Regions from separate parts of the Homo sapiens genome. Here region 2 is linked to region 1. Evidence: fine-mapped expression QTL. A gene starts in region 1. The other region holds a variant in brackets. All regions are shown on one strand. Distances are between the middles of the regions.

Region 1 (4,384 bases):
GTACTAGGGCCCTCACCGCTTTTTGGTTTGTAATCAAGGCAATTGGCCTGGAGCACAACGCCTTCTCAGAGCAAGATGCTTTGGCCCAGGGCACTGTCAATACTGGAACATCTCTCAGGTTTCCCTGGAAGGCATTTACAAAAGCTACTCTCAAGTTCTCCTGGAGCCCCTAGTAGTTTCCCAGGAAGCCCACTGTCTCAGAGGCTGGGCAGAGCCTGGGAAGGACAAGGACTTCATTGTCTGAATTCTCTCTTCCTTCACCTCTGAACCACCTGCCTGCACTGCTTGGCCAAGTGAAGCAGAATGCCCCAGGCTTCCGAGGCACTGCCATGTGTAAGATCACTGTCCTCAGGAACAGAGCGGTTGTTCAGAGCTGGCTGGACTTTCTGAACCTCCCAGGATGTCCCTAATTCCGTTGCCCTTGACTTAACAGATCATCCCGTTCACCCTGAAGGAATGCTTCCGGAGCAGCTGAACTGGGGCAGACTCTGCAGGAAGCAGATGTTTGTCTCACTTCCTGCATCAGCCAGCGGCCACCAGCCTCCTCATGGGCCCCAATCCATGGTCCCGTATGGAAAGAAGGGGGATGCGGGAAGAAGCTCTCCTCACTGCCCCTGGAAAGGGCTGTTTAGTGTCCACAAAGTCCACAGACACGGCCTTCTAGCTTTGGCTCACATGTGGACCAGAACCCATGTTGAATGCCAGGATTTTACATTTCACATTTTAAAAGTCTGGTTTGGGGCCTGGCGCGGTGGCTCACGCCTGTAATCCCAGCACTTTGGGAGGCTAAGGTGGGCGGATCACTTGAGGTCAGAAGTTTGAGAACAGCCTGGCCAACGTGGTAAAACCCCATCTCCACTAAAAATACAAAAGTTAGCCAGGCATGGTGATGAGTGCCTGTAATCCCAGCTACTTGGGAGGCTAAGACATGAGAATCGCTTGAAACCAGGAGGCAGAGGTTGCAGTAAGCCGAGATGGCACCACTGAACTCCAGCCTGGGCAACAGAGCAAGACTCTGTCTCAAAAAAAAAAAAAAAACAAAAAAAAAAACACCTCTCATTTTGGCAGCCCACAGATCAAAGGGAACTGGGTCCTTATGTCAAGATGTTCTGGGTAAACTGCCTACCATGAAATTTCCAAGAAAGAAGGTCTCGCAAACCCCACAGCACCTTCCGTGAGGTTACCGAGAGTCTTTTCTAAGAACTTTGTTTTCCACTTACACGGACCAACAAAGCAAATGGTTTTACAAATAGAAGCAGTGAGTGTGCTTTTGAACCAGCCAACACTGTGGATGGAAAAAAATTTAAAGCAAAAAGCCTGTAAGTAAATCAGGAGTTTGTGAAGGGGAAAGCTATTTCCTTCTTTTCCTTATTTGAAGTTTAAGTTCAGCTTATTCTCCATACCTTCTGAGACACTGAAAAGGTAACATCTGAAGCCACAATGAGCAGACCCCCAACATATGGCAAGTGGGCTGCCTGGCCATCCTGTGAAATGCCCTAAAGGAGGACTCTTGGCCGGGCGCAATGGCTCATGCCTGTAATCCCAGCACTTTGGGAGATGGGCAGATCACCTAAGGTCAGGAGTTCGAGACCAGCCTGGACAACATGGTGAAACCCTGTCTCTACTAAAAATACAAAAATTAGCCAGGCATGGTGGCAGGCACCTGTAATCCCAGGTACTCGGGAGGCTAAGGCAGCAGAATCACTTGAACCCGGGAGGCGGAGGTTGCAGTGAGCCAACATCACACTACTGTACTCAAGCCTGGGCAACAGAGCAAGACTTTGTCTAAAAAAAAAAAAAAGAAGAAGAAGAAGGGCACTTGTCCTGTTGTAAGGGTGTGAGGGTAACTGGGGGAGCATGCAGAAGCTAGGGGCTCACCTGAGTAGGTCCAGTCAGACACATGCTGGGCCTGGCCACCCAGCAGGAACAGGGACAGCAGAAGCACCAGGGCCCTCATGGTGCTGCACATCTGTAATGAAGACTGATTCCGGCGAAGCTCTTCTTTTAAAGGCTCAGAAACTGTAAATAACAATTTACAATTGATCTGCCCAGCTGGCTAAACCACCCTTTGCTGCACCCACTAAAACAATAACACCCTCCCCATAACAGCACTTCTGGCTCCGTGCATTGCGCCAGGCAGCCCCAGCACCTGCCTGATCTCCTCCCACGTCAATTTCATATCCGGTCAGTCCATGGGTTTGGTTGTTCAGTGTCTTAGGAACACCTGAAGAGCCACACAGTGCAGCCATTGTGGACAGGTGACCGCGGAAATGGGAAAAGGCCCAAGGCAGGGAGAAGCAGGATGAAAGACTTTCCTGGACGTCGGACTTCCCATGCTCTTTCTCCTGACATTAGAGATCTGGGGACTGCTGATGGGATCACCACTGCCTGCAAACCCTGCCCATCTCAGTCATGGACACAAGCCACCGCTGCAGACATGTGGCTGCCCTCAGCCAGGCATCCAGGGAGGTGGCCTGGCCTCCATGTTTGGACATTTCACGGTCCTCTCCTTAAACCAGTGGTTGATCCTGGGTCCCAGCTCATGAGCCACATTCCAATGTGTGCCTTTATGCCATTCAAGCTGGTGTGGGCGTCTGCATTTCTACATGGATTTGTTCTGACACCTGCAGGGCTCTTGGGCACACCTAAGCCAATCAGCCAATTGCCCTCGCAGGATCCATGGATTACCTAATCCTGTGTATTCACTTGGCTAGACAGTCCCTGAAATTAGCTGAAGGAGAAACTTTTGAGTTTATGCCTGCTGACAGGCCAGCATTTCCCATGCCCTTCCACAAGGTCAAACACAAAGGGTAGCCGGAGCTCCTGCGGGGGGGCTACCATGCTGCCGGACACAAAGGGCCACCCCTGCCTTGTTATGGGGAGCTGAACCCCCTCCTGGCCTAGCTTAACTCATTGTCCACTTGGTCCTGGAATGGCAAACGTCAGCAGGCCTTCACAACAAGGATGTTAGCGGTGAACGTAGGCCTCCCGAATACTTCTAAGACTCCCCACTGTCATTTAATAGGGAACATCAGCTGCTGCAAAGAACTTGCTGGAAACTTCCATTTCTAAAGCTCAAGAGCTGAAAGAATCTCAGAGAGAGAGCAAAGCATGTTCAAGGACAAGGATTCTGAAACTAGACAGGATCTGTGCCACCTGCTAACTGTGTGACCATGGGCAACTCAGCGCTCTGTGCCTCAGCTTTCCTTCCTTTTCTTTTTTCTCTTTCTTTCTTCCTTTCTCTCTTTCTTTTCTTTCTCTCTTTCTCTCTTTCTTTCTTTTTTGAGACAGGGTCTCTCTCTGTCACCAGGCTGGAGTGCAATGATACGATTTCAGCTCACTTCTCTTGGACTCAAGCAATCCTCCTGCCTCAGCTTCCCAAGTAGCTGGGACCACAGTCGCATGCCACTACGCCCTGCTAATTTTTGTACTTTTTGTAGATACAGGTTTTCACCATGTTGCTTAGGCTGGCCTCAAACTCCTGGACTCAAGCGATTCTCCCGCCTCGTGCTCCCAAAGTGCTGGGATTACAGGCGTGAGCCGCCGCACCTGGCCGCCTCCTTTCTTTAAAAGGAGTTAGTGATAGCACCTCCTTTGTGGGGATTCGGCAATAAATGTGCCTGCAGTAGTTGGAGCAGTGCCTGGTGTGTAGCAAATGGCATTAGCATCTATTCAGACCCCTCATTTTATAGGAAAAGGAAGTGATTTATCATTGCCACCCAGCTGGTTAGTGAGGGAACTGGAGGAAAAATGCTTCAATCTCCAGCTTATGGACCATTTCTTTGCAAAAATGAGAAACCTACTCTTCTGTCCTTGCTAAACCAGTGACGCCCACCTGCTGACTCCCAGCCCTGCGGAAAGGGCCACCTTGTAAATCACAAGGCCCCACCTCTGCTGAGGAGACCAAGACCCTTTACAAGCCCAGGCAGGACCCCTGACATCAAACTGGCAGGAAAACACAAACTCAGTCATCTGAATTTTTTCTTGGGAATCTGAATTGGGAGACCCAGAAAGAATCAGGGAGCTGCAGGCAGGCAGAGACTAAAATGTCAGGCTGTCACGGAAGCCTGGGAGGACTGGATGAGCCCAGGCGAGGGGAACTGGAGCAGGAAGGAGCTCAGAGAAAGCCTGGGCCAAGGGGGAGGGGAAGACTGCCCAAAGAGGGGCCCTGGAGAGTCAGAGAGAGGAGTGCTTGCGGGAGAGCACAGTGAAATGCAGAGGGCCCACCACTCCTGGCAGCTCCCAGCCCCACGGGTCTCACTGCCCTGCGGTGAGCATTTGGGGCTTCCCAGGAGAGCTCTGGGGCGTTCCTTGCCTCACACAGCTCCTTAAAATACAGTGCACATACTGCGTCTGTGAAGCTGTGATGCCAGCAGCCCCTCTG
Region 2 (4,384 bases), 21 kb before region 1:
CTAACTGAAGTCTTTGTAGGTCTGATTCTGCTGGTTCTCATCTATAATGTCTTTTTTTCTCATATGTTTTGTATTTTTTTTTCTTAATTGAGCTAATTTCAAGTAACTTTATTTGTGAAAATTCTTCTAGGTCTGGATTTAAGGTCATTTTCCCAGAGATAATTTACCATTTGCTTTTGTCAGGTGTCTGGGGGCACTTCTAGCCTGACTGGCAACATTTTGGAGTGTGAGTGTCCTTGAGCAGGGGTCTTTTCCACCTTTTTCTAAGGAAATGAAAAGTTTAAGAAAAGGAGATGGCCGGGTGCAGTGGCTCACACCTGTAATCCCAGCACTTTGGGAGGCTGAGACAGGCAGACTGCTTGAACCTGGGAGTTTGAGACCTGCCTGGGCAACATAATAAAACCCTGTCCCTACTAAAAATAAAAACTAGCCGGGCGTGGTGGCACACTCCTGGAGTCCCAGCTACTCGGGAGGCTGAGGCAGGAGAATTGCTTGAACCTGGGAGGCGGAGGTTGCAGTGAGCTGAGATCGTGCCACTGCACTCCAGCCCAGGTGACAGAGCGAGACTCTGTCTCACAAAAAAAAAAAAAAAAAAAAGGTTGGCTAGACGAGGCACAGTAGCCCTGCACACAGAAAATACTGTAGGACCCCTTAGTTGTTGACGTTCGTTGAGATGCTGGGGAGAACCCTTGTTAACCAGGCAATCGAATGGGAAGACTTCGGCAAAGTGATACCATACATTACCTGTGTCCTGGAGAGCTTGACAAAATCTGCCAGCACAAACCAGTGGACGTTCTCAGTGCAGGGAGGCGTGGTGAGTGAGCCATGGTAGGTGTAGTAGTGCTGGAGGTTCCTGGGCAGCATGTCCTGAACGTCAAGGCCAGTCAGGGTTGTTCTTTGTCCTGACCAAGAAGACAGAAGGTAACAGAATGTCAGGGACCAGCGCTGCCCCTCGGGAGGACAGCTCAGGCCCAGGCCTCGCCAGGTTCCAATCTCTTGAGTTCAGCAGAACATAGAAGCTGATGATTAAGAAACAATTTCCCAGTTTACTTCTTCCTGGAAGGGATTGAGAGGAGAGACTTTGGGGATAGACGCACTCAGACACCTGCTCCTGGCTGAGTGCTCTTGGCCGGGTGCTCACCCTGCGGCCATTTTCTCATCTGTAGAAAGGGAATAATCAGCAGGATTGTTGTGAGGGTAAGAAGGAATAACGTCTGGAAAGCAGCTGGCATTGAACCACTACATAGGGAAGTACTCCTAAGTGTAACTGCTGCGGTCACCATTATCATGGCTAGGCAGAGGACACATTTTATGATCAATGAAAGAAATAAATATGGCCCCTGGAGACTTCTGGGTAAGTGCCCTTGAAGAAAGACCAAAATGCCTTGGTTTGGGCTCATTGAGAAGTGGGTAGACAACAGTTGTAAATGCAGAATCAGGCCAGGCGCAGTGGCTCACGCTTGTAATCTCAACACTCTGGGAGGCCAAGGCGGGAGGATTGCTTGGGGCCAAGAGTTCAAGACCAGCCTGGGCAACACAGGGAGGCCCCGTCTCTACAATAAGTTGTTTTTTTTATTATTTTTTTAAATAATAAATGCAGAATCAGAACCAAGCCAGGGTCCAGGTACAGGCATTTGGTCCTGAGCTCTTCCTGCCACAACCGCTGGAAACCAAGCCCAGCCACAGGTGGGGCGTAGGGTGGGGCCACTTCCACCAGGCCTGCAAAACTCCTGCAGCAGCCACACCTGCTCCTGCTCTAGAGAGGTCCTTGTTTCATTCATGTCAACAACACTGAGCCCCTGAGCTCAGCACAAGACTCTCAAGGCAACACAGGATTGAGTTGGATTTTGCTTCACTTTCCCTGAGCACTTCTGCGCTTCTTAAAGGCAGAGAACATAGTTTTGATACATACGTAGATAGGCCTGTTCAACCAAGGCCACAATGTCTCAGAGTGCATAAGCCCATGAGTAGGCAAAAGAGTTCTAAGTTTGATTATTATTGGAAGATTTCAAGATATAACCTCCAAAAGGGCTCTGTGGTAGAGATTTATTTTTGTAACTCTAATATATTTAAGTGAAAGTCAAGAATTCCAGAATCATGATGCAGCCACCACGGAAAATGGTATAATAGTTCCTCAAAAAATAAACATACGGCCAGGTATGGTGGCTCACACCTGTAATCCCAGCACTTTGGGAGGCCGAGGCGGGTGGATCACCTGAGGTCAGGAGTTTGAGACCAGCCTGGCCAACATGATGAAACCCCGTCTCTACTAAAAATACAAAAATTAGCTGGGCATGGTGGCACGTGCCTGTAATCCCAGCTACTCGGGAGGCTGAGGCAGGAGAAGCGCTTGAACTTGGGAGGCGGAGGTTGCAGTGAGCCGAGATCAAGGCACTGCACTCCCGCCCCAGCGAGACTCTGTCTCAAAAAACAAAAAAAAATTAAAATTAAAAAAACATAGATTACTATGTGACCCAGCAATTCTACTCCTATCTACCCAAAAGAAATGAAAGCAGGGACTCAAAGAGATACTTGTACACCTATATTCATAGCAGCGTTACCTCACAATAGCCAAAAGGTAGAAGCCACCAAAATGTTCACCAGTAGATAAATGGATACACAAAATATCATATATCCACACAATGGAATATACTTCAGCCTTTTTTTTTTTTT[TG/G]AAGCAGAGTCTCACTCTGTCACCCAGACTGGAGTGCAGTGGCACAATCTCAGCTCACTGCAACCTCTGCCTCCCGGGTTCAAGCGATTCTCCCGCCTCAGCCTCCTGAGTAGCTGGGAATACAGGCACCCTCCATAACACCTGGCTAATTTTGTATTTTTAGTAGGGACGGGGTTTCACCATGTTGGCCAGGCTGATCTCAAACTCCTGACCTCAAGTGCTCTGCCAGCCTTGGCCTCCCAAAGTACTGGAATTACAGGCGTGAGTCACCTCGCCCAGCCACTTCAGCCTTTAAAAGGAATGAAATTCTGATAACATGCTACAATGTGGGCAAACCTAAAAGACATTATGCTAAGTGAAATAATCCAGACCAAAAAAAAAGACAAATACTGTTTGATTCTACTTATATGAGGTACCTAGAATAGTCAAATTCTTAGAGACAGAAACTGTGGTTACCAGAAGCTGGAAGGGGAGATGGGGAGTAACTGTTGAATGGGTACAGAGTTTCAGTTTAGGAAGACGAAAAAAAGTTCCGGCAATGGAGCGGGGTGATGGTTGCATCATACTGTGAATGTTCTTAATGCTACTGAACTGTACATTTAAAATGGTTTAAGGGGTAAGTTTGTTGTTGTTGTCGTTGTTTGAGATGTTGTTGCGCTCTGTCGTCCAGGCTGGAGTGCAGCGACACAATCTCAGCTCACTACAACCTCCACCTCCCGGGTTTAAGCGATTCTCCTGCCTCAGCCTTCCGAGTAACTGGGATTACAGGCGTGCACCACCATGCCTGGCTAATTTTTGTATTTTTAGTAGAGACGGGGTTCAACCATGTTGGCCACACTGGTCTCAAACTCCTGACCTCAGGTGATCAGCCCGCCTCCGCCTCCCAAAGTGAGGGGATTACAGGTGTGAGCCACCGCACCCAGCCTTAAGTGGTAAGTTTTAATTCAGGCTGTGGGACTGCGTGGAGTCACTGAGATGAGACAGAGCCTGACTCCACCCAACATTTAGGGCAGGAGCCAGAAAGAGAGTGAGAGGGCAGAGCTGGGGCGCGCCAGACCACCCTTTGAAGGTAAACTAAGACGAGAAGAAGAGTGGCCCATAGATCTGACCGTCACTCCGGCTCCGTGGAGCATTGGGGCCAGCTCAGGGTGGGGTGGGTGAGAATGGAGAACAGGACTATTCTATGACCTTTTCAAGGGGAGCCAGAGAACTGGGGGAAGCTGGGGAATGGTAAGGTCAGGAGATAACGTTTGTTTGCTTGTGTTTGGAGGTGGGAGGAATTAGGGCAGATGTGTGTGCTGAGCAGGAGGCTTTAATAAAGAGTAAGACATCAACGATGCAGACCGGGCACGGTGGCTCATGCGTGTAATCCCAGCACTTTGGGAGGCCGAGGCGGGTAGATCACAAGGTCAGGAGATCGAGACCATCCTGGCCAACATGGTGAAACCCTGTCTCTACTAAAATACAAAAAATTGGCCAGGCATGGTGGTGTGTGCCTGTAATTCCAACTACTCAGGGGGCTGAGGCAGGGGAATCACTTCAACCCGGGAGGCGGAGGTTGTAGTGAGCTGAGATCATGCCACTGCACTCCAGCCTGGTGACAGAGCAAGACTCCATCTCCAAAAAGAAAAAAGAGAGAGAGAGAGAGAAATCAACGATGCAGAAGACCAGGGAGAGAATAGCAGGAAAGGAGGCCCTGAGCATGGGAGA

The links. PIP is the estimated chance that this variant, and not a neighbour inherited with it, causes the effect.
Region 2: its variant is the best candidate, but not a certain one, in a credible set for the expression of CA6 in CD4 T cells (BLUEPRINT, PIP 0.54).

Annotation. Positions count from the first base shown.
Region 1 is chr1:8,943,460-8,947,843 of GRCh38, reverse strand. It overlaps CA6 (carbonic anhydrase 6), which reads right to left and starts at 1,976. Exons shown (of 8, transcript NM_001215.4): 1 at 1,879-1,976. The coding sequence starts at 1,957.
Region 2 is chr1:8,964,177-8,968,560 of GRCh38, reverse strand. It overlaps CA6 (carbonic anhydrase 6), which reads right to left. Exons shown (of 8, transcript NM_001215.4): 6 at 745-902. Among named protein-coding and RNA genes, the nearest start is that of CA6, 21 kb to the right of the region's middle. The variant TG/G (reference allele first, on the strand shown) is at 2,674.